6 separate regions of the Homo sapiens genome follow, and regions 1, 3, 4, 5 and 6 are each reported to be linked to region 2. Evidence: microRNA targets listed by miRTarBase, many of them from high-throughput screens and not tested one by one. Region 2 holds a microRNA gene; each other region holds the end of a gene's coding sequence.
Evidence for each region. The annotated mature microRNA hsa-miR-2116-3p reads CCUCCCAUGCCAAGAACUCCC and lies in region 2 at 1,447-1,467, shown strand. An mRNA with a match to its seed (bases 2 to 7 or 8) in the 3' UTR can be bound and repressed. Matches are read on the target gene's strand: a 7mer-m8 pairs with bases 2 to 8, a 7mer-A1 pairs with bases 2 to 7 and ends in A, and an 8mer does both.

Region 1: miRTarBase lists ALDOC as a target of hsa-miR-2116-3p. Seed matches in the 3' UTR shown: 7mer-m8 at 975-981.
Region 3: miRTarBase lists TRAF3IP2 as a target of hsa-miR-2116-3p. Seed matches in the 3' UTR shown: 7mer-A1 at 2,739-2,745 and 7mer-m8 at 1,129-1,135.
Region 4: the mRNA of PSMC1 is a reported target of hsa-miR-2116-3p. Seed matches in the 3' UTR shown: 7mer-A1 at 3,378-3,384.
Region 5: the mRNA of SPAG16 is a reported target of hsa-miR-2116-3p. The part of its 3' UTR that is shown has no 7-base or 8-base seed match.
Region 6: the mRNA of EPHB2 is a reported target of hsa-miR-2116-3p. Seed matches in the 3' UTR shown: 7mer-A1 at 783-789.

What each region holds. Positions count from the first base shown.
Region 1 is chr17:28,570,225-28,574,328 of GRCh38, reverse strand. It overlaps ALDOC (aldolase, fructose-bisphosphate C), which reads left to right. Exons shown (of 9, transcript NM_005165.3): 7 at 88-262; 8 at 395-594; 9 at 708-1,209. The coding sequence ends at 803. PIGS (phosphatidylinositol glycan anchor biosynthesis class S) reads left to right here and starts at 2,805. Exons shown (of 12, transcript NM_033198.4): 1 at 2,805-2,866; 2 at 3,141-3,280; 3 at 3,366-3,477. The coding sequence starts at 2,833. RefSeq lists enhancers at 2,425-2,474, 3,165-3,284 and a silencer at 3,265-3,461.
Region 2 is chr15:59,168,555-59,172,658 of GRCh38, reverse strand. MIR2116 (microRNA 2116) reads left to right here and starts at 1,397; the gene lies at 1,397-1,476. MYO1E (myosin IE) reads left to right here. Exons shown (of 28, transcript NM_004998.4): 22 at 617-762.
Region 3 is chr6:111,555,732-111,559,835 of GRCh38, forward strand. TRAF3IP2 (TRAF3 interacting protein 2) reads right to left here. Exons shown (of 9, transcript NM_147686.4): 9 at 1-3,820. The coding sequence ends at 3,674. It also overlaps TRAF3IP2-AS1. Among named protein-coding and RNA genes, the nearest start is that of TRAF3IP2, 48 kb to the right of the region's middle. RefSeq lists an enhancer at 3,633-4,104.
Region 4 is chr14:90,271,717-90,275,820 of GRCh38, reverse strand. PSMC1 (proteasome 26S subunit, ATPase 1) reads right to left here. Exons shown (of 11, transcript NM_002802.3): 11 at 392-3,548. The coding sequence ends at 3,414. NRDE2 (NRDE-2, necessary for RNA interference, domain containing) reads left to right here. Exons shown (of 14, transcript NM_017970.4): 14 at 1-4,104. Among named protein-coding and RNA genes, the nearest start is that of PSMC1, 17 kb to the right of the region's middle.
Region 5 is chr2:214,409,771-214,413,874 of GRCh38, forward strand. It overlaps SPAG16 (sperm associated antigen 16), which reads left to right. Exons shown (of 16, transcript NM_024532.5): 16 at 370-731. The coding sequence ends at 545. VWC2L (von Willebrand factor C domain containing 2 like) reads left to right here and starts at 1,284. Exons shown (of 4, transcript NM_001080500.4): 1 at 1,284-2,016.
Region 6 is chr1:22,913,098-22,917,097 of GRCh38, forward strand. EPHB2 (EPH receptor B2) reads left to right here. Exons shown (of 16, transcript NM_017449.5): 16 at 365-4,000. The coding sequence ends at 473. Among named protein-coding and RNA genes, the nearest start is that of MIR4253, 52 kb to the left of the region's middle.

The sequences.
Region 1 (4,104 bases), not on the chromosome of region 2:
GTGCCCATCTACCCCTACATAGGGAGCATCGAGCAGTAACCAGTGGGGGCCCAGACCCTTAGTAAACCTCCTCTAATCCCCACCCAGGTCTTGGCTGCTGTGTACAAGGCCCTGAGTGACCATCATGTATACCTGGAGGGGACCCTGCTCAAGCCCAACATGGTGACCCCGGGCCATGCCTGTCCCATCAAGTATACCCCAGAGGAGATTGCCATGGCAACTGTCACTGCCCTGCGTCGCACTGTGCCCCCAGCTGTCCCAGGTACTACCCAGCTCCCTAACCTGCTCCTATCCCTAAGGCCCATCTTCAGGTCCTTCTTGTGGCCTTCAGGGGTTCCCTATCCTGGAAAAATTGGGAGTGACCAGTCAGTTTGTCTTCTCTCCTCCACACTAGGAGTGACCTTCCTGTCTGGGGGTCAGAGCGAAGAAGAGGCATCATTCAACCTCAATGCCATCAACCGCTGCCCCCTTCCCCGACCCTGGGCGCTTACCTTCTCCTATGGGCGTGCCCTGCAAGCCTCTGCACTCAATGCCTGGCGAGGGCAACGGGACAATGCTGGGGCTGCCACTGAGGAGTTCATCAAGCGGGCTGAGGTTGGGAGCTACAGGTGGTGGTGGGTGGGGGCAGCACCCAGAGGCTATAGCCTGGGCAGGGCTTGGCACCTGTGGGCTGGCTCAGCCTGCTTACTCCACGCTCCCTTTTGCAGGTGAATGGGCTTGCAGCCCAGGGCAAGTATGAAGGCAGTGGAGAAGATGGTGGAGCAGCAGCACAGTCACTCTACATTGCCAACCATGCCTACTGAGTATCCACTCCATACCACAGCCCTTGGCCCAGCCATCTGCACCCACTTTTGCTTGTAGTCATGGCCAGGGCCAAATAGCTATGCAGAGCAGAGATGCCTTCACCTGGCACCAACTTGTCTTCCTTTCTCTCTTCCCTTCCCCTCTCTCATTGCTGCACCTGGGACCATAGGATGGGAGGATAGGGAGCCCCTCATGACTGAGGGCAGAAGAAATTGCTAGAAGTCAGAACAGGATGGCTGGGTCTCCCCCTACCTCTTCCAGCTCCCACAATTTTCCCATGATGAGGTAGCTTCTCCCTGGGCTCTCCTTCTTGCCTGCCCTGTCTCCTGGGATCAGAGGGTAGTACAGAAGCCCTGACTCATGCCTTGAGTACATACCATACAGCAAATAAATGGTAGCAAAACATTCTACTTTGCCTGTCTGTTTTACACATCAAATTCCCACCTCCCAGTTTCTGATCTCTGCTAATTCTATCTCTGGGCCCTCTGACTCTGGAGGTGGAGAGGGTGGGATTTGAGTCTTACTGGGCTTCAAGTTATGGAGGAAGGGCACATGCAGTCACCATCCCCAGCTCAGGCTCTTGCTCTCTTGATGTCCAAGTCTGGAGTGGGGCAATGAGGAAGACTGCAAGTCTTCTAGGGACTGCCACATCAGTGGCACTGGGCTGCAGCTACAGAAGTATGGAGTGAGGCCAAACTGGCAACTCCTGAAGGCAGATTTGTGCAAGGCTCAAAGCAGGGAGGCAGCAAGACAGGCTGGGATAAGAGTGGGTGGGAGTCTCTCCCATCTCGCAGTGTTAAGCCCAGCTGGGACCTGGTACCTTCCACTAGGGTGAGCCACACCAGTAAGGGCAAGCGAGCACCTGGACTCCCGCCCAAAGAGGAAAACCAAGGCTCTGCGGGCTGCCAGGGCTGAGCAGGGCATCTAGGAGGTTGCCAAGGGCTATGGCCCATTTTCATTTGGGGTAGAAGTGGGCACAAAGGGAGCCAATTGGAGGGTCTGGGTAAGGACAGCTCTGGTGAGGCCTGATGCTGAACTTTAACCACTGGGCTGGGTTGTGAGGTAGGCTGAGAACCTGGGTCTAAGCAGATAAAAAGAAGAGATAACAAGCTGCGTGTGTTCTGTGTCAACTGGGGAGGCTACAAATGCTCCACCCTGTGTGGCCTGACTTTATAATAACAAAAATAGCTTGCACATAGCACCAACCCTGTTCTAATCACTTTATATGTACTGACACATTTCATACAACTCTATAAAGTAGGTACTATTACTATCATCCCTATTTTAATAGAGAAAACAGGCACAGATAGGCACAGAACGATCTTCTCACGATCACTCACCTAATAAGTGATGAAGCCAGGATTTGAACCGCAGTGATCAGCATCTAGAGTCTGGGCTCATGACTTTTCAAGATTTTTAAGTGAAGTATTCTGAGTTTTCCAAGTTGGAAATGAATTAAAACGTATTTTAAAATAGCGAGAGAGCCAATTGTGCTAAAACATACTAGCTTGCTACCTCCGTGTTTGAGGCTTTGAGGAGAGGGCACCCTAAGAGGAGTTCTACGATAAGGATAATAAGACCGTGACAGTTGACGTTGAGGGCTTTCCGTGTGCCAGGCTCCTTACAAGAACGGCCTCATTTATGTAAATATCTCCATTTTCAGATGAGCCTCGGAGCTGCCTGTAGTTGCCCAGCTAGTATTTAAGGACTGCAGAGGTTGCGCTCTTGATTGCGGGGCTAGAAGTGTGTTCTACAGGGAAGCGGGGAACTTCGTTCCAGCAGCGCCGAAACCCGCACGGCCCCTAGGCTGTCCCTCCGCGCCCGGGTGACTTCCTTTCAGATCCCCAGCGAAGCTCCCAGCGGAGCCCTCCCACCCCTCGCCCGCTTGCTCCCGTCTGCGGGTCTGGAGTAGCGCTCGCGATTGGCCCCGATCACCGCCGCGGTCCTGCCCCCTCGTTGCAGAGATTCCGATTGGGTGAGGCTCACGAAGCTCTGCCCCCACGGTGGCCGGAGCAGCCGGAAGCTAGCATGGCGGCCGCCGGGGCTGCGGCTACACACCTAGGTGCGGTGGGCTTCGGGTGGGGGGCCTGCAGCTAGCTGATGGCAAGGGAGGAATAGCAGGGGTGGGGATTGTGGTGTGCGAGAGGTCCCGCGGACGGGGGGCTCGGGGGTCTCTTCAGACGAGATTCCCTTCAGGCTTGGGCCGGGTCCCTTCGCACGGAGATCCCAATGAACGCGGGCCCCTGGAGGCCGGTGGTTGGGGCTTCTCCGCGTCGGGGATGGGGCCGGTACCCTAGCCCGTTTCCAGCGCCTCAGTCGGTTCCCCATGCCCTCAGAGGTGGCCCGGGGCAAGCGCGCCGCCCTCTTCTTCGCTGCGGTGGCCATCGTGCTGGGGCTACCGCTCTGGTGGAAGACCACGGAGACCTACCGGGCCTCGTTGCCTTACTCCCAGATCAGTGGCCTGAATGCCCTTCAGGTGAGACTGCTGTGCGGGAGGGTCGGGGGACAGCCCCCCCGGCAAGGTGGAGACTCAGTGACGGCCCTGATGCTCCTTCCTGTAGCTCCGCCTCATGGTGCCTGTCACTGTCGTGTTTACGCGGGAGTCAGTGCCCCTGGACGACCAGGAGAAGCTGCCCTTCACCGTTGTGCATGAAAGAGAGATTCCTCTGAAATGTGAGTTACTGGGGATCAGGGCTGCTTTTCGCCTCTGAGCTCAGTTCAGAGCTGAGTTGGGTGGGAGGAGCGGGGGTGTACCATAAACGCAGTTAAAAACTTACTGTTGAAAGACCTCTGAATGAACAGTGTGTTTGGTCAGAAAAAAACTACTTTCAAATTCACAGTCACTAAATAGCAATTTTACTCGTAAGACAGGCTACCTAATCGGAAGCAGTTGATGCCCATCAGGGTATAGGGGAAGAGGTGGGATATAGTGGAAAGAACACAGAGTTTGAAATTAAATTGGATTTGCATATAGGCCCTATTTAGTTTGTTTGTTTATTTATTTATTATATTTTGAGACGGAGCTTCGCTCTGTCGCCCAGGCTGGAGTGCAGTGGCGCCATCTTGGCTCACTGCAACCTCTGCCTCCTGGGTTCAAGCGATTCTTCTGCACCAGCCACCCGAGTAGCTGGGATTACAGGCGCGCGACACTACGCCCAGCTAATTTTTGTATTTTTAGTAGAGACGGGGTTATGCCATGTTGGCCATGCTGCTCTCGAACTCCTGACTTCAGGTGATCCGCATGCCTCAGCCTCCCAAAGTGTTGGGATTACAGGCGTGAGCCACCGCGCCCAGCCCCTA
Region 2 (4,104 bases):
CACCACAGGTGTTGGTGACTTTCCCTTTACACCTGCTGTCCTGATATGTGAAGTGACTCCATATGAGTTTGCCAGTTTTTAAGTCAAAAAGAGTCAAATGTCATCATTTTTTACATGTCATCCTAATAATCATGAACAATGCCCTCTTTCACTGTCATGGGGCCCGGTCATGTGATGAATGGAATGGCCTCTCAACAGTAGTGAAGATTGACTGTCCAAGGCAGCTTCCCCCTGTCCTGGTAACAGCAGTCCACTGTGTGAATTGTTGTCATCACATTGACCATGTCTGTCCACCTTTTTTTGAGACGGAGTCTTGCTCTGTCACCCAGGCTGGAGTGCAATGGCGCAATCTCGGCTCACTGCAACCTCCACCTCCCAGGTTAAAGCGATTCTCCTGCCTCAGCCTCCCAAGTAGCTGGGATTGCAGGCGCCCACCACCACACCCAGCTAATTTTTGTATTTTCAGTAGAGACGGGGTTTCACCATGTTGGTCAGGCTGGTCTCGAACTCCTGACCTCAGGTGATTCACCCGCCTCGGCCTCCGAAAGTACTGGGATTACAGGTGTGAGCCACCATGCCTGGCCTGTCCAGCTTCTTAAAGCTCCTCTCCTTACAGGGTGTAAAGCGAGACCTGCTCCTTACCCCAAAGTGCTTGTACTTAATCGGACGAGAAAAAGTCAAACAGGGCCCAGACAAGGGCCTGGTGAAAGAAGTCCTGAAGCGGAAAATCGAGATAGAACGGATCTTGTCTGTGTCCCTCAGGTGAGTAGTGGAGGTGCAGAGGCAGGACTGCCCCTTCTCGCCTCAGCATCACGGTCCGCTGTTCCAAACAGCCAGGAGGAAGGCCGGGCTGGGCTTCCCAGCTGTCAAAATCATGATCAAGAGAATGGAATTTCCCTTTGTCCCAAAGGGAAGACTCCCTAGTCTCAGCAAGTCTTGATATGTCAGGAAGAAGGTACCAAGAAAAGGTTGCCTCCGGACAGCTCCTCTAATCAAGGGGGACCCAGATCTCTTGTAACCGAAACGTGTTAGAAATGAACCCGGTATATGGAACACCTCAGAGAATAATTTCTCTTGTTGCAGTAGAGCCAAGGATTCAGAGCCCTGTCCCCCAGTCCACCTCACCCAGGTTGGAGGCCTCACCCATTTCCCTGAGCAGAGGGTCCTGAAAGGGAAGTTTCTTTGGGACTTCCTTAGGGAGTGCAAGTTGGTCTCCATTCTCTGTAGCCCTGGAGTCATCGTGAGATGCTCTCTTCGCTCCAATTCTCAGGCAGTGGGGAGTGGTGTTTGCTTCCACAAGGCCTCAGGAAGGGCCCTTGCTCCTCCCGGCAGCACCTTGGCTTCCTCTCGGCAGAAGGGCTCCTCTGCCGGCCGTCAGCATCTCCTCCGTCAGTGGGACCTAGGCTAGGGGTTCTTAGCATAGGAGGTCTTCCCATGCTAAGAAGTCCTCCCATGCCAAGAACTCCCAGACTAGGAGTCCTCCCATGCTAAGTCCTCCCGAAGTCCTCCCATGGTAAGAACTCCTAGACTAAGTTCCGCTGACACAGGAAATCCTCGCAATCCATGAAGACTAAGAATGGAAGAAAGGCCTCCTTGAGCCCCATAGCTTCCTCCAAGAATCGTGTCCCTGGGCCTCTGAGGCTAACACTACTTTAATCAGGAAAAGCTTTGGGCCTTTGCATTAAAGATGTTCTGCTCTCACATGAACATGGAATTGGGACGCCTGTCAAACTCTTACTCCACACAGAAGGCAAAACTGGTGCGCTCAGGAAAAAGCAGGGGTTTTATGTGCTCAGGCGTCTGATGTACCAAGCTGGAAATCCTAGTTCCAGTCTGATAATCCAAAACAGATTTCTAGTTGCATCCATTCTTGCCTGTGTCTCTGTGGTTTCTGATTCTATCTGTTCCTAATTTCCCTGGATAAAGGACCAGGCAGTGCAGTGCAGTGAAGTATTTAAAACGTGCCAACTCAGGATGTGGTAAAGTTGCTAAGCAGATGAGTCCGCAGTGTCCATTTTGCAGCCCCACCTCAGGTAGGTTTCAAGGCTATTGTTTTTTTTGTTTTTTTTTTAAAGCTCTAGGCGCTGACTGATTTTCTGAAGGCCTTCCTAAACATTCAGCTCACTGGCTGGGTCCCAACCTGAGCGGGGCAGTGCCTGCTGGCCACACTCTTCCTGGCTAGCTGGGCCCTGAGGCTGCCGTGGAAACCCAACAGGAAGCTCCTGCTTTGTTTGTCATTGCATGGGGCCCTGCCATGCCTGGACTAAGCCAGGTTGGCCACAGCGTGCTTGGCAGGCACAGCAGGTGAAAGTCAGGGAACCACAGCTCTAGGGTGTGTGTAGTCGCTGTGCCGAGAGTGACTTGTTCTTTCTGTTATTGCCCAGGTATGTCTTCAGTCCCTCAGACCCCTGGTGGAGTGCTCATGACTGGGACCATAAATTATCCTAATTGAGCTACATTTGTGTGGTTGTTTTGTTTTGTTTTGTTTTGTTTTGTTTTAGACAGAGTCTCGCTCTGTCACCCAGGCTGGAGTGCAGTGGCGTGATCTCAGCTCACTGCAACTTCTGCCTCCCTGGTCCAAGTGGTTCTCCTGCCTCAGGCTCCCGAGTAGCTGGGATTACAGGCCTGAGCCACCACCCCTGGCTAATGTTTGTATTTTTAGTGAGAGACAAGGTTTCACCACGTTGGCCAGGCTCGTCTTGAACTCCCGACTTCAAGTGATCCACTCATCTCAGCCTCCCAAAGTGCTGGGATTAGAGGCGTGAGCCACCGTGCCTGGCCTTGAGCTACACTTGTATCAAGCACTTTGACACTTACTATCTTATTGATAAGTCCTTGAGGGGGTTGTCAAGCAGGGACTGTAGGGACTGTTCACACTCAAATTTCTTCCTTTTATTGTTTTTTGTTTGTTTATTGTCTTCTTTTACAGCCTCTGGGGATATAATCTGTCATGGGAGCACCAGCTTCTTTTTCTTCTTCCTGTTCAGTATTCATTATCTGGAAGGTTCCTTTCTTGCGGTCTTTCCTTTTTAAAGGCTGTAGTAAAATGAGGTACTTAGCCTAAAAGTTTTTCTGACTCTAAGGAAAAAAAAAGAAAGTGTGAGTCATTTGAACTTGTGATGTCTGTGTATTGCAGTCACTGAACCTCACACTTGCCAAGATGAATAATAGTGTCCCCTCATTTCTTTATACTTGAGTTAGGCCAGTAATCAGAACCAAGTTAGGAAAGCAACCAGAGGGTGATGTGTGTGCAGAATCGAACCCAGAGTGGAAATTAATTCTGGTACCAGACTACTGAACATGCGTGTGTGTTCTCAAAATACTTCAGTACTGGCATAGAGAAAGATTTTAACAGTTGGCTTGTACTTCAGGAAAAAAGCTGCAACATCTGTATGTGTTTTTAAGAATTTCTGAGATTGACCAGTTGACTATTGGCTGGAATGATATCAACATATGGCCTCCTAGTTACGATTTATCAAAGTATCCCATAAGCTTGATCTTAGCCCATCTCTAGCTCTTACAATTAATGTCAGTGCACAGTGGGCCTACAGCTCCCTATTCAAACCAACCAACCATTCAGTAACAGTTACAAGACAACATGTGAGCATGACTAAATATTTGGTATGAAGAATTTATTGTTTATTTCTGTAGGTATGATAATGTTTTGTGGTTAATTTTAATATAAAGAGACTTTATCTTTTAATAATATGTACTGAAACATTTGAGCATGAAATAAAGGCTGAGCGCAGTGACCCACGCCTGTAATCCCAGCACTTTGGGAGACCAAGGCAGGAGGCTCGCTTGACCCCAGGAGGTTTGGGACCCACCTGGGCAACATAGTAAGAACCCATCTCTACAAAAAATGTGAAAATTAGCCAGGAGTGGTGGTACGTGCCCGTGGTCCCAGCTACTCAGGAAGCTGAGGTGGGAGGATTGCTTGAGCCCAATAGGTCAAGGCTGCAATGAGTCATGATCATACCACTGCACTCCAGCCTGGTAGTTATTTTAAAGTGGAAGCAGGGAGAGTGAGGTTGTAGATAATTGTGATTATCCGTGAATTGGTGCTTGAAATCTGACATGTGGTGGTTCATTCTATACTACTTT
Region 3 (4,104 bases), not on the chromosome of region 2:
GAATGCCTGAGGACCAGCATAACATCTAAATCAACCGAGTGTTAATCTTATTGTCAGTGCTCTCAAATAGTTGTTACAATTCCTTTGATGGGCCGGGCGTGGTGGCTCATGCCTGTAATCCCAGCAATTTGGGAGGCCGAGGCGGATGGATCACGAGGTCAGGAGATCAAGACCATCCTGGCTAACACGGTGAAACCCCGTCTCTACTAAAAATACAAAAAATTAGCCGGGCATGGTGGCAGGTGCCTGTAGTCACAGCTACTCGAGAGGCTGAGGCAGGAGAATCGCTTGAACCCGGGAGGTGGAGGTTGCAGTGAGCTGTGATTGCACCACTGCACTCTAGCCTGGGTGACAGAGCGAGACTACGTCTCAAAAAAAAAAAAAAAAAAATGCTTTGATGTTGGTGGTCATCGGATCTCATAGAAATTTCAGGGGCCAAGCTTTTGTCACTTGGCCAAGTGCGTGTGTGTGTGTATGTGTGCGTGTGTGTGTGTGTGTCTGTGTGTACTTTTTGGTTTGTTTTTTTGCTACCAGTGCTACCAGCTGTAACACTTTAATGACTCTTTGTGGAACACCAGGGACCACTGCTCATCAACCACCTGGGGTAAGAAGAGTGGAAGGAATGAGTGGTTCAGAGCTTAGGACAGGTCTCTGAAGGGAGGAAGGGTTAATAACATCACATTGCTAAGTCTTTGCAAACTAGAAACATTTCAGAGTAATTGCTGATGTCATTTTATTTACAAACGGGTGTCGAATCCTTAATGATGGTGTCACCTCAGACTAAAAAAGATAATGAAAAAAGAGAAAGAAGACTTGAAGTTTGTGTTTGGGTGTTTTCCAGGTTATCCAAATATGAAAGTCAGTTCTACCAGGTCTCAAAACTACGGAACTAATGTTACATGTCAGAAAGTCTTACAAATGAGTACTTATGTTATGCTAGTTTTTCTTCTCTTTTCCTATTTTTTAAAGAACAAAGACATTCGTCTCACCCAGTAGACATCTAAGTTATAAAGTAAATGAAACTAGTGTTCTTTGCAATGCATTAGCAATGTTTCTTATTTATAGTTGACAAGTATTTGTCCTTTCCCTGTGCTACATATAAGAGCTGGACTGGGCTGGGCGTGGTGGCTCCCATCTGTAATCCTAGCACTTTGGGAGGCCAAGGCAGGTGAATCACTTGAGCCCAGGAATTCGAGACTAGCCTGGACAACATGGCAAAACCCTGTCTCTACAAAAAATACAAAAATTAACCAAGCATGTTGGTGCACACCTATAGTCCCTGCTACTTGGGAGGCTGAAGTGTAAGGGTCACCTGAGCCCGGCAAGGTCAAAGCTGCAGTGAGCTGAGACTGTGTCACTGTACTGCAGCCTGGGAAAGAGTGAGACCCTGTCTCAAAAAAAAGAAAAAAAAAACAAAACGGTGGACTGTCTTGTAGCACAAGTGAGCCTTGTTTAAGAGGCTAGTAGATAAAGAAGGGAAGCAGTAGCTTGCAGCCCCAAAAAGTCTTCATTGTCTTAGTAGCTTGGGCCATAATTAAAGCCATCCCACCTTTATAGTTTACGTAGATTTGATACATGTATACATATTTTATATATGGATATGTGTATGTGTTCTTTTTCTGGAGACCAGGTAAACAAGATATATAGATACAGATAGATATCCAAAATTATCAACCTGAGGGTATTGTTGAAGTTTTTTTTTTTTTTTTTTTTTTTGAGACGGAGTCTCACTCTATTGCCCAGGCTGGAGTGCAGTGGCGCAATCTCGGCTCACTGCAAGCTCCGCCTCCCGGGTTGACACCATTTTCCTGCCTCAGCCTCCCCAGTAGCTGGGACTACAGGCGCCTGCCACCACGCCCGGCTATTTTTTTTGTATTTTTAGTAGAGATGGAGTTTCACCGTGTTAGCCAGGATGGTCTTGATCTCCTGACCTCATGATCCGCCTGCCTCAGCCTCCCAAAGTGCTGGGATTACAGGCGTGAGAAGATATTTTTTAAAAGAGGAAAATGTTGGCTGGGTGTGGTGGCTCACACCTGTAATCCCAGCACTTTGGGAGGCCGAGGTGGGCGGATCACAAGGTCAGGAGTTCGAGACCAGTCTGGCCAATATGAAACCCTGTCTCTACTAAAAATACAAAAATTAGCTGGGCATGGTGGCAGGCGCCTATAGGTCTAGCTACTTGGGAGGTTGAGGCAGAAGAATCACTTGAACCCAGGAGGCGCAGGTTGCAGTGAGCCAAGATTGCAGCACTGCACTCCAGCCTGGACGACAGAGCGAGACTCTGTCTCAAACAAAAAAAAAGAAGAAGAAAATGTCTCTGTTAAGAAAATGTAAATTTGTCCTCTGAGAGACATAATTATGAAAATGAAAACTCAGTCACTCCTCAAAAGAGTATTTAGAATTTAGGTCCTAGACTTCAAATCTTTTAGAGTGATTAGAGATGCTTTTGTCCATGTCATTTTATAAATGAGTCCCTGGAATCTAAGAAAAGTTAAAGGACTTGCTAAAGGTCATACAGCTAATTGGTGGTAGAACCAAAATTAGAACACAGACTACAATTCTAGCCTACATCCCCCAACACTTCATACACATATGCAAATATTTTTACCTATGTAGTCAGATCCTGAGAACCATAATCATACTATTTAGAATCATGGCTGTATGCTATATAAAGTTGTTTTGTTAAAAATGGGTGTTTTTATTTGTTTGTTTGTTTTTTGAGACGGAGTCTCGCTCTGTCTCCCAAGCTAGAGTGCAGTGACATGATCTCGGCTCACTGCAACCTCTGCCTCCCGGGTTCAAGTGATTCTCCTGCCTCAGCCTCCCGAGTAGCTGGGATTACAGGTGCACACCACCATGCCCGGCTAACTTTTTTGTAATTTTAGCAGAGATGGGGTTTCACCATGTTGGCCAGGCTGGTCTCAAACTCCTGACCTCAAATGATCTGCCTGCCTTAGCTTCCCAAAGTGCTGGGATTACAGGTGTGAGTCACTGCGCCCAGCCTAAAAATCTTTATTGCAAGAATAAAGCTTCCATGATTATGGTTAAAAAGGGTTGTTTAACTAGCTGGCTTTAATCCATTAATACAGAGTGGTCTGTTATATTTATCTAATATTATATCTAAGCAGCTTTGTTGATGTCCCTGGAAGCAACTGCCCATATCATTATAAATTATATGTATCTCCTTTGAGATAAGTAAAACATAATCTTACAAAAGAGTAAACATTTTATTATTTGTACATGAATCAGTTTGGTCTGAGGATACACAAGCATCTGGCTAACTCATAAAAGTAGCCTGAAGTGATTGATAGGAGAGTGTTTGTAGTCATTTCCATTTGCTGCCACATCCCTTACATTATCTACTTGCTAAGCACTGAGAGGCCCAGAATGGACACATCAAACTGTCAGGAGGAACATATGGGACACTGGCACCTGCAATGGTTTTTTTAAAAGCAGAGAATGCAGAGCAGTCACAGACTCCACTTCAAAGCCAGGGTGTGTGGAGGTCTCCGGGGAAGAGCTCTGCACAACAGGTTTCCTGGGGGCCAGAGGGCCTCTCGGGGAGGAACAGAAAAAAACCAGCCAGGAGTGCTACCGACCAGCCTCAGCCAGAATGCTGTCAGAACAAGGCCCCAAACATGGCCTGGCCTCAGTGATCTGGGGATGAACGGTGTCACAAGGGAACCACCTGAAGGGTGGGCAGAGGCCCCCGTGGAGGAGCCACATACTCTTCCTCTCTCAGCAGCCGCAGCAGGATGTTTTTTTTATTCTTGGGCCAGCTGTAGACATGAGTGTTCTGAAGCCAGGTGGGCACATGCTCCTATGGGAGGCAGAATGACAGGAGCAAAGGTCATTAGAGAAAAACCTGGATGCCAGATCCCAGGCTCAGTTCCCAAACATTTCTGGCTTTCCCTACATGGGCGTTTCCTACCAAACTATCCTGGGAGTTGTGCTGTTTTGCTTTTGGAAAGGTTTAGCATGTGAAATGTTCTTGGCTTCGGGTACAAGCTGTATATCTCATTATAAAAACCACATGTGCACAGCATTTTCTGTCAGTCTCCCAGACTACCTACCCTTTGCATTTCAACTTGCTTTTCACCACCC
Region 4 (4,104 bases), not on the chromosome of region 2:
ACCTTAAATTGTTCTACTGAGGAAGGGCTCCAAAGAGCCAGTGGGTTTTCCGCAGGCAGACGGGGTTCTCCCTGTCCGGCTCACCAGTGCAGGAAGCCAGGGAAGAAATTACTGTGGGAATTCTGTTATTTCACAAGCACTTCATACCTGCATCCCTGCACTTGGCACCGCAGGCCTCAGTGACCAGCTGCCGAAACGGTAATTTCAGCATTTTGGTCAGTAAGCAAACTGGAGAAGCAGCTGGGGTGGGGCGCAGTTCAGCCCGCTACCCTGACACTCTAGGCCCTGGCATTTGCTTTAGCTGCTTTTGTAGAATTGACATGAGGGAGACTGTCCCTCTAGAGGAAAACGCTCAGCTATTACCAATGAGGAAAAGGCAATACTGATGTGCTGGGGTTTTTTGTTTTTTTTAATCTCAAACTTAGGAAAAGATGCAAGTGCGTTACAAAGAATTTTGTTTCCTGAACCGTGTGAGTCAGTTGCTGAGAGTCTGCTACCCGCCCACGATACAGACACTGAACAGGAAGTCAGCATGGACGCAGTACTCCTAGCAGGTCCTCAGGCCCAGTCATGTCCTCTAGGAAAAGGATCCAGTTCAGGAGCAGGAGCTGCACTTGGTTGTCATCTCTTTGGTCTCCTTCTGATTGGAAGCTTTTTGACTTCCAAGACGTGGATACTTTTGAAGTGTTCTGAATTTGTAGAATGTTCCTCAGTTTGTGTTTGCCTGGTGTTTCCTCAGCACTGGATTCAGGCTAAGCATCTTTGGCAGGAGTGTGACAGCACTGACACTCTTGGGTGGCACGTACTTTCAAAGTGCCCATTACTGATGATGTGCATTTGACCACTTGGTGAAGACGGTGTCTGCTGGGCATCTCCAGTGTGACTTTCCCTTTCTAACTGAACAGTGTTTTGTGGCAGACTCTCAAAATCTGTAAATACCCCTTCCTCAGCAAACTTTCAGATCAATTCATATGTATTGGGGTGTGTGTGTGTGTGTGTGTGTGTGTGTGTGTGTGTGTGTGTGTGTGTGTGTAGTTCCCTATTTAAAGGGCTATACTGTATTCCATTAATAGTAACTGTTTGTTAGGATGCTCAGATTGTCCCGAGTTTGGCCAGTGGAAGCCCCTTCACATAGGCTTCGGTGTCCTTAGGACATGTCCTTATCATTCCTTGAGCACTCCCTTGCTTTCTGGCAAAACAGACTTTGGGTTCATCCTGTCCTTTCCCTGCCTAGCCCCGGAATCAGCCCTCACTCCTTTTAGTGGAGAATAATACTTTTAGCAGCAAAGGTCTGGGTCTAGGGGTGCTCACTGCAGTTGGGGTGTCACTGTTCCCAGGTGCTCCCAGTGGACAGAGGTCGTTCTTGTTTTCTTCTTTCTGTGTCTAACTCCTCAGAGAAACCTGGCTCCCACTGTCCTGTTTACCTGCCTGACTGCCTCCATACATAAGCAGCCTCCCTCCCCTGCCACCACCCCGTCCCTGCAGATGCCTTCCTCACCCACTTGGGCTCTCATACTGCACATCAGGCTGCCCACACTGACTCCCCCTATCGGACCACCCCAGCCCTGCACATACACCCCACACGGATGCCAGCCTCACCCTGCCCATGCTGAGTCCCCGTGCTGTGGTGTTCCTCCACATGGACAGCTCCACACCCTACTTGGGCTGACACCCGCCCTCCCCACAAGCACCCCGTCCTTACCCTGCACTGGGCCACCCCCACGTGTGGATGTCCTCTGTGGTAGGCAGAGTGGCGCCCCTAAAGATGGCCACACCCTAAGCCCTGGAACGTGTGAATGTTACATGGCAAAAGGAACTTTGCAGATAAAAATTAAGAAGATTGTAAACTTTAAAACAGGGAAATTATCCTGGATCATCTGCATGGGTCCAATGCAATCACAAGGATCCATAAGAATAGAAAAGGCAGGCAGAAAGAAGGGTCGGTGGGAGAGAGGGACTGGGCCTGCTGCTGCTGGTGGAAAATGAAGTGCCACGAGTCAGGAGGGAGGGTGGCCTTCACAGACTGGCAAAGGCCTCAGCTGGCAGCCAGCAAGGAAATGCTGACCTCAGCTGGCCCACAACTCCAAGAAATTAAATTCTGCCAACAATAATCCTCAGCAAGGAAACGGATTCTCCCTTAGAGACGCCAGAGGGAACGGTCCTGCCAACAGCAAGACTTTAGCCTGGAGACACTCGTGTTGGACTTCTGACCTACAGAACTGAGATAAAATTGTGGTTTTTATTTATTTATTTATTTATTTTTGAGACGGAGTCTTGCTCTGTCGCCCAGGCTGGAGTGCAGTGACGGGATCTTGGCTCACTGCAACCTCCGCCTCCTGGGTTCAAGCGATTGTCCTGCCTCAGCCTCCTGAGTAGCTGGGACTACAGGCACCTGCCACCACGCACAGCTAATTTTTGTATTTTTAGTAAAGATGGGGTTTCACCATGTTGGCCAGGCTGGCCTCAAACTTCTGACCTTGTGATCCGCCTGCCTCAGCTTCCCAAAGTGCTGGGATTACAGGCGTGAGCCACCGTGCCTGGCCAAATTGTGCTGTTTTTAAACAAAGCCTGTGGTAACTTGTTATAGTATTAACAGAAAACTAATACACACTCCTCATTCAGTGTGGGCCCTACAACCCACACCAGGCCACCTGTCAAGGGAACGCTTACCTTGATCTGTCCCACTTAATAGCTTTAGGCCTGATTTGTTCAGAAAGAGAAATGACGGAAATAGACGGAGAAAGGGAAGGGGAAGTTCTGACATGTTTCTGAACACCTTGAAAGGGATGAGATTTCTGAGCCCAAGGGCTCAGAAGGGCTTTCAAGATATCTCTAGGAATCCTCAGTCTCTTGGGAACACCAGTAGTTATTTTCTGCCCTCAGAGTGCTAAGAACATGCATGGTCCACAAAACTTCCAAAAAGGAAAGCTGTACTTCCTTTGGAAGCAATAGCCACATTAACGCAGCCTTTATTATTTAAACAACGAATATCCCTGGCTCTGTGGTAGTGACCATTTCCCACTGTAATTACCGTTGAACGCCAGCTCTGGGGGTGTGATGTGGCGAACGCATAGTGAGGTCCACACTCCTTGGGACCGCAGCCTGAGTTCCTGTCCAAAGGCTTCCCTGTAGCTGGGTCCACCCACAGGCTGCTGTTGAGCGGTAGGTGTGTGTGGAGACTGCAGAAACAGGAAGTGTTTGTGAAAGAGCACGCTTTATTGGGAAGCAGACTGCTGCACAGTGACCAACAGGCCACCCAATGGGCACTTACACATCGTACTCCAAAAGACACAGGATGTTTTGCTAATAAAAATCAGTGGGAACAGGGATTCCTCTGGGCAACTCCCCCAACCTCATCCCTTTCAGGGATTGAGAAATCTCCCAACCATTTTCCTGATGACAGCCATGGTTCATTAGAGATACAGCCCCTCAGGGGTGCCTTCCTGTTTCTTATAAAGAACATTTTCTTTAGATTTTTTGAAGTCTTCATTTGTTACTTTCATTCTACGTTCTCTTAAGGCCATCAGACCAGCTTCTGTACAGATTGCCTGTAAGAAAGAAGAGTGTGTTCAGAAAGTGACATACTCATTTTTATTCTAACAAGGAATTCCAAAAAACCTATTCTGAGGCCAGGCGCGGTGGCTCACACCTGTAATCCCAGCACTCTGGGAGGCCGAGGCAGGTGGATCGCCTAAGGTCAGGAGTTCAAGACCAGCCTGGCCAACACGGTGAAACCCCATCTCTACTAAAAATACAAAAAGTTAGCCAGGGACGGTGGCAGGCACCTGTAATCCTAGCTACTCGGGAGGCTGAGGCAGGAGAATTGCTTGAACCCGGGAGGCAGAGGTTACAGTGAGCCGAGATCGCGCCACTGCACTCTAGCCTGAGCAACGAGCGAAACTCTACCTCAAAAAAAAAAAAAAAAAAATCTGTTCTGAAATAAAGCATGAGACACCTAGACTAAACACAAATTGCTTATTTGGGAAAGATTTGATTTTTAAAAAAAATGTTTTAAGCATCCTATTTTCTGAAAGGATGTGAAGTGGCTTAAACTGGGAGTTACTGTAACTAAGACTGACCCAAGGGTCAGGGCTGTGGGTTCTA
Region 5 (4,104 bases), not on the chromosome of region 2:
TCTAACATATAATTTATTTGAAAAAGAAAGTTGCCTTGCATAGTTGCTTTCAATCTCATCTCCTCGAAATGCTTTATTAATCACAAATATAAAAGAATAGTAGGATGTTTGATGAAATCTGCATATAAAGGAGGTAGACCATTAGGCTCTATGTCCCAATTAGAAAATTTTATAACCTAATTATTGATGTGTCTTAATTTTGACTCAACTTATTTCTTATACCTACAGGAGCTACTGCATATTTAATAACTGACCCCTAACACAGAATGATAATTGAAAAAAATAGAATGCTTCATTGCTTATAAACTGTGAACACTTGAAATAAAACTTTGATTCATTCTCTCTCTCTCTCCTCTCTGTCTCCCTCAGGTCGAGTTTTAGCTCAGGCAAGTGGCAATGGTGTTATCCATTTGCTAGATCTTAAATCTGGGGAGATTCACAAATTGATGGGCCACGAAAACGAGGCACACACGGTTGTGTTTTCTCACGACGGGGAGATTCTCTTTTCTGGAGGCTCTGACGGCACAGTTCGAACGTGGTCTTGACCGTCAGCACATCCCGCTGCAGAGGGCATTCCCTTTAAGGCTTGAAAATGCCTCCTGTAGTCCCAAACCAGCAAAGAACTGGTTAAATGTGCCAGCAGGTAACATTTACAGTCTGCTTTAAAACATGCTTTGGACATATATTTTAGTGCTCATACTGTTACTAATAAAAAAATAACTTTATGCTCACCCATTTGTGTCAGGGTCTTTTTTCTCTCTCATTTTGATAAGAATTTAGAGACACGGCATCTTTGCTAGGGGTTTTGAAAGAAACAGCTTTACAATGACGCCTAATGACAGACTAGATGAATTACAGGAGATTGATTTTTAATGTTAGAGAACAAACTGCAGGAAAACCTGGCTACTTTAAAAAAAAAAAAAAAAAATCAGATCCAAGCTGCAGGAAGACCTGAAGTTTAATCATGCAGCACCAGGGAAGTCTTTCTGCCACCAAAGGGTCAAATAGAATCGACAAGCATACGTTTTCACAGATTGTTTGACAATGATTATGCTTTATCTATTAATAATAATTGGGGACTGCAGATGGCTTAAATCTAAATGCAAGCCTCTTCTGGAACTTTCATCTCTGCAGCCCATCCAAGAACGCGTTAGGTATACAATTTTATACAAAAAAAATTAATTGCAATTTCAATGCAAATAAATATCTCGCACGTAGAATGTCTTTACCCCTCCTAATGCGCGCATCCGCTGTATAAAGTGCGACTGCTTGGAGAGCACTCTAGCCTCGTCTAAAGCAGCTCTGGGATTTCGACAGAGCTGGGCTCAGAAGCCAGTTGTTGGCGCTGTCCGTGGTGCTGAGGAATTCCCGGCTGCCGGCAGAATGAGCTCCAAATCAGCAATCTGCAAACTGCTCTTACTGATGCAGAAACCCAGCTAAAGTTGCTCCTTTCCTTCACATCCACAGTTAGTATTTTCCGGTGTGTAAGAGGGGATTCAAGCAACACACTGTGGACGATGGTGATGGTATTGCCAGCGGAGTGGGCTTTAAGCTACAGCATGCTGTTGCTGTTTGTGATCCTCAGAGCCTAGCCAAATCACCTCTACTGCCGTAGCAAACACTGTGTAAGTGAACTCATGTGTGGAGGAGGCGTAATCAGCCGGGAAATTTCATAGAAGGATCTAAGAAAATGCTAAAAATAAGTTCAACATGATTCTGCTACTGGGGTCTGGATTTCTACAGGACCAGCTTTGCTTCTTGCTTTGAATTCTGAAGACAGGTCCAAAGCAAATTTCTTATATGTGTCTGCTGTGTTTCTTTCTGGAAGGGCGGGAGACTGCTTCTTTACTGTGTTTTGAAATGGGAGGTAGAGAGAATGGATTGCCTTTAATTCATGCCTAAAAAATGTATTCTTTGGGTAATTAAAGAGGAACTGCTTTCTTAAAACATACCTGACCTTTTAGTTCATTTTGGGCTGTGACCCCTACCACCACCATTAACCTCCAGAGTGATTAGGTAAGTGTATCTTATGACATGAATTATGTTTGTTTTCTCAAAGAAATAGATGCAGTCATTTTAAATCATCTGTAGCAATATGGGGAGGGGGGGAAAATTAAGCTGGGAAGTGATCCTCAGTTTAGCAGTGTTTGCTTTCTTTTTAAAAATCTTCAGATAAACATTACATTTGATTTATCCCATGTTTCTTCTCTTAAATAGTATCTTAAATTGTACTAGGGCAGCTCAATTATGAAGGCTTTTTTTTAAAAAAAAAATAGCCTAAGAACTTTGTTATATTGAAAATAAAATCTTGTTTTTTACCATGCAGATTTTAAGATATATTTCATATAATAAAAACATATTTAATGTTTATATAAAGTAGATATTACATTCCTATTTTTACCTCTAAGTTTACATTTACCATAACCTAACACATTAATGCCTACCTGTGGCTTACAAAGAGATCATTTTCTGCCTATGTCCCTTTGAAGCAGAATCATATGTGTATTTTATATGGCTTATCTTGCATGCATTGACAGATATTGCTGGAATATTATAAGGAAGCACAGTAGCTTTCTTTTCCTCCAAGATAAACTTTCTAAATATGTGATGTATAAATGCTTGCTTTAATTAGTAAATTATATTTATGCTTTTTCAGAAGCTTCTGTTATGTTTGTTATCTCTGTAGTAATTTGAGAGAAAAAAATGCTTTGTCAAAGGGAGCTTCCAGATTCTCAAGTAGAATTATAGGTTTGCATTTTCTTGTTCTGTCATGACTTATTATTTTTGACATATTTTATAAGAAATCATCGGCTTTATTACCTACCCAAAGGGAATTCTAATATCAGAGGATATCAGAGTAATTCTGATATCAGCTTTCTCCAGAAAGAGGGCATACTACCTTCCATTTTACTATTACTAGAACTTGTATATCTACCTTAAAATGCAAATATAATAGTTTATGAAGTTTCCTAATGTCATCTTTATCTTGTTATCGTCTGTATATGTTAGACTGAAAAGAGATGGTTTATCATTGCTCTTAATATAATCTGAAAATAAACCAATGTATAACATTTATAACTGACCTGAAAATGTCCTGTATACCATCTTAGTGTTATTGGCATGAAGCCAATAGCATTTAAATAAAAAAATGAGCTATTTGACAATACTTTTTCTTATTTATTACTCCCTAAAGTCACAGTCTCCCCAGAGCCTCTGTGTGATTTAGTTATTCTAAATATTTAAATAAGAGCCCACTCCCAACACTTCACATCAAGCACCAATACTAAGTGGAGTTTACAAGAGTCAGTGTCACAAAATTAATAAGGCATATTTTCTATGAATGGTTAACACTTAATTACAGTTTTAAGCAACTTCCATAAAGAATTTTATGCTGGCATCTTTGTGCAGATTTTGTACATGTAAATATTTTTGACATTTCAAGAGTTATGTTTTCAAGATCTCATAAATTGTATTTATATTATATTGCAAATTTTAATTTAAATAATATTACATATATACTAGATTCAAGTTACTGTGAAGTAAATTTATAGATAGATCTTTCCTGCCCACTAGGAGCTTCCTTCCTATGTAAAATAATGTGGACAATAATACAAATAAATTTGTTTTTAACAAACTCTTTTAAGCACATGGAATTCTCTTGTATTATTTATTATTTCAAATTTTCTTTCTCTTAATCACTATGGAATAGTTATGTTGTTTTTGTTATCAACTTTATTTCAAAAATCCAGACTCACATTCACTTAAACAGGTAACTGATGTTGACGCCATTGTTGTTCTTTAATTATGGGCATAAATAAGTAGGAAATCCTTTATAGTAGCTCCTTCCTAAATATAATTTATATTCAACTGTTGGTTTATTCCCTTTCCTTTAGAATTAGATTTTTTTCTCACTAATCTCTTGAGTTGACACAGATAATTATAACATATGTTCCATCACTGACTAGTCCAGTTTAAAGAATAATAGAAAATGTGAGTTCAAATATTCTTGAGCTATTTGTAAGTTACTCCTTGGATCACATTTTGGGGCTCAGTAAAACCATTTCTTTGCAATTTAGATAAAGCCAGACCTATGAAATTCAGAAG
Region 6 (4,000 bases), not on the chromosome of region 2:
CAGGGGAATTGCTTGAACCAAGGAGGTAGAGGTTGCAGTGAGCTGAGATCACGCCACTGCACACCAGCCTGGGTGACAGAGCGAGACTCTGTCTCGAAAAAGAAAGAAAATGTAAGCTGGCTTCCCCCTCCCAATAGCAGGGGAGAGAAGGCCCCCTAGGGACCCTGATTCCGACTCAAGTGCTCTTCCACCTCACACCATAGTCGCTCCCTCCAGCTGTGGCTGCCTGCCCACTCCCCACTCCCCACTCCCCAGTACTCCTTGCTTTGCCATCTTCCTCCCGGGGAAGCCCAGGCAGCTCTCTACCAGGCACAGGACCCCTTCACCCGCATATTTCCCTAACACACGTGCTTCTCTCCCAAAGGGACATTCTCCGGGTTGGGGTCACTTTGGCTGGCCACCAGAAAAAAATCCTGAACAGTATCCAGGTGATGCGGGCGCAGATGAACCAGATTCAGTCTGTGGAGGTTTGACATTCACCTGCCTCGGCTCACCTCTTCCTCCAAGCCCCGCCCCCTCTGCCCCACGTGCCGGCCCTCCTGGTGCTCTATCCACTGCAGGGCCAGCCACTCGCCAGGAGGCCACGGGCCACGGGAAGAACCAAGCGGTGCCAGCCACGAGACGTCACCAAGAAAACATGCAACTCAAACGACGGAAAAAAAAAGGGAATGGGAAAAAAGAAAACAGATCCTGGGAGGGGGCGGGAAATACAAGGAATATTTTTTAAAGAGGATTCTCATAAGGAAAGCAATGACTGTTCTTGCGGGGGATAAAAAAGGGCTTGGGAGATTCATGCGATGTGTCCAATCGGAGACAAAAGCAGTTTCTCTCCAACTCCCTCTGGGAAGGTGACCTGGCCAGAGCCAAGAAACACTTTCAGAAAAACAAATGTGAAGGGGAGAGACAGGGGCCGCCCTTGGCTCCTGTCCCTGCTGCTCCTCTAGGCCTCACTCAACAACCAAGCGCCTGGAGGACGGGACAGATGGACAGACAGCCACCCTGAGAACCCCTCTGGGAAAATCTATTCCTGCCACCACTGGGCAAACAGAAGAATTTTTCTGTCTTTGGAGAGTATTTTAGAAACTCCAATGAAAGACACTGTTTCTCCTGTTGGCTCACAGGGCTGAAAGGGGCTTTTGTCCTCCTGGGTCAGGGAGAACGCGGGGACCCCAGAAAGGTCAGCCTTCCTGAGGATGGGCAACCCCCAGGTCTGCAGCTCCAGGTACATATCACGCGCACAGCCTGGCAGCCTGGCCCTCCTGGTGCCCACTCCCGCCAGCCCCTGCCTCGAGGACTGATACTGCAGTGACTGCCGTCAGCTCCGACTGCCGCTGAGAAGGGTTGATCCTGCATCTGGGTTTGTTTACAGCAATTCCTGGACTCGGGGGTATTTTGGTCACAGGGTGGTTTTGGTTTAGGGGGTTTGTTTGTTGGGTTGTTTTTTGTTTTTTGGTTTTTTTTAATGACAATGAAGTGACACTTTGACATTTCCTACCTTTTGAGGACTTGATCCTTCTCCAGGAAGAAGGTGCTTTCTGCTTACTGACTTAGGCAATACACCAAGGGCGAGATTTTATATGCACATTTCTGGATTTTTTTATACGGTTTTCATTGACACTCTTCCCTCCTCCCACCTGCCACCAGGCCTCACCAAAGCCCACTGCCATGGGGCCATCTGGGCCATTCAGAGACTGGAGTGAGATTTGGGTGTGGAGGGGGAGGCGCCAAGGTGGAGGAGCTTCCCACTCCAGGACTGTTGATGAAAGGGACAGATTGAGGAGGAAGTGGGCTCTGAGGCTGCAGGGCTGGAAGTCCTTGCCCACTTCCCACTCTCCTGCCCCAATCTATCTAGTACTTCCCAGGCAAATAGGCCCCTTTGAGGCTCCTGAGTGCCCTCAGATGGTCAAAACCCAGTTTTCCCTCTGGGAGCCTAAACCAGGCTGCATCGGAGGCCAGGACCCGGATCATTCACTGTGATACCCTGCCCTCCAGAGGGTGCGCTCAGAGACACGGGCAAGCATGCCTCTTCCCTTCCCTGGAGAGAAAGTGTGTGATTTCTCTCCCACCTCCTTCCCCCCACCAGACCTTTGCTGGGCCTAAAGGTCTTGGCCATGGGGACGCCCTCAGTCTAGGGATCTGGCCACAGACTCCCTCCTGTGAACCAACACAGACACCCAAGCAGAGCAATCAGTTAGTGAATTGAATGGAAATAAACGCTTTAGTTATAATATGACCCCTGTTCTCTGTAAGTTCCAAGGGAGACCTTGGTACCCTTGGGATGCACGTGACCCAGGTGCTAAGGGTTGCTCTTCTAAGCAGCCCTTCCTCCCTCAGGCTTCCAGAAAGCCCAGGGCAGAGAAAACACATGGAGAACGACAGCTCCACGTGGCCTTTCTGGCCCTGGCTTGTCAAAAGCACAGGCAACAAAGGAAGTGAGTTGGAAGTGGCTCAGAACTCAGCCTTCGATGCCCTGGGAATCAGGGTGAGCCCCTGCAGGTACATAAGTAGCAGAGAATTGACGAGAGTGCACTCGGAAGAGGGTCTGAGTGTCAGGTGAGCTGTCATAGTGGGAACGTGAGGGTCTTAGAGTGCTCATGTACCCCCAGGCACAGCCAACTCTGGTTTTCTCTGTGCAAATGAGCTCTTGCTCACATTAAAATCAGAATTGTCCACGTGGCAGGAGGAGGCAGGGAGATGGATGTGCCATGGATATCGGGTCTGGCTGAGGAAGGGGAGCCAAGGAGACTACCTCTCGGGACCTTTCCCAGATCCGAGGAGATGGCCAGTGAGAAAGATTCGGGCCACAGGCAGCCAGCTAGAAGCGCCACGGTCAGAGTGAACATCCAGCACAGCACAGCCCATCGTCTGTCACTCACCTGTTCCGGGAGCCTGAGCTGCAAAGGGAAGGAAGGGATTAGAGAGAAGTGTGGGCCCCCCATGGGGACAGCAGGGCAAGCCACAGGGAAAGCATTGGCAGGTTTCCCACAAACTGGCCGGCAGTGGCCCACTGGCCTTCACTTTGTGCCCCAAAGGTGCCCTGCGCGGGTGGCAGCTGTCTCGGCACACAAGGTCACCTTCTGGTGGGAGCTGCCCTGATGCTCTTTAGATTAGTTCTGTCTCCCCAGCCCACCCCCCAACTGTTCTGGGGCCCCACATGGGGCTGGCAGTCGGTGCTTCCCGTCAGATGGCTTCCTGTCCTAAGCCGCTGAGCTGGTGACCACTAGCCAGCATGTCTGCCCCTCCACCCTCCAGGGCCGAGGTCCTCAGTGGCCATGGCCCCCTGCAAACCTGCTTCCCAGAGCACAGGTGCTACCAGACCTCTGTGTCTCCACTTCAGGGTAACAAACAGATGTCACTGTGACTGTCCCAGGGGTACAGGCGCTGCTCACATCTCTTCCACCCCCACCCACCCACCCCACCCGCTACCGGGGCAGTCGCCCCGCCCCAACCTCTTGCTTGCTGCTCAGCGGGGAGTGGCAGGCCATGTTGCCAAGCGCCTTCCACTTACACCACCCGCTCACCCAGGCACACAGCTCTGAGCCACCCGCTGCCTGGTTACTAATCCTTTCCTGGCTCAACCTCCCCAAGTGCCAGCCCCCGCCTGCCCAGCAGTGTTAGGGGAGTTTCCGGCTGCTCTGCACACAGTTGGTACTGCAGGAAAGAAAGCTGCCTTGTAAACACAGGCCAGGGCACCGTGGAAATGGGGACCAGCTGCTCTGGGAGGGTGCAGCTAGCAGAGCTGTGCAGCGCCAGGCTGGGTAGGAGAGAGCCATGCTACCCACCCGCACCCCTACTGCTACGAAGCCCCCAGAATGGGTCATTGTTGGTGCTCAGCAGTCCTCTCCCTCGGGGATGATATCCAAAATATCAACTGCGAAGACTCGGGCAGACCAATCAGAATAGATGATGGCCTGAGTGCTGGACCAGAGGCCTCAGAGCAGGGACCCGGGTGGCGGGGCAGTAGGAGACACTTAAGGGACTCAGGGCTATGGCTGTTTAC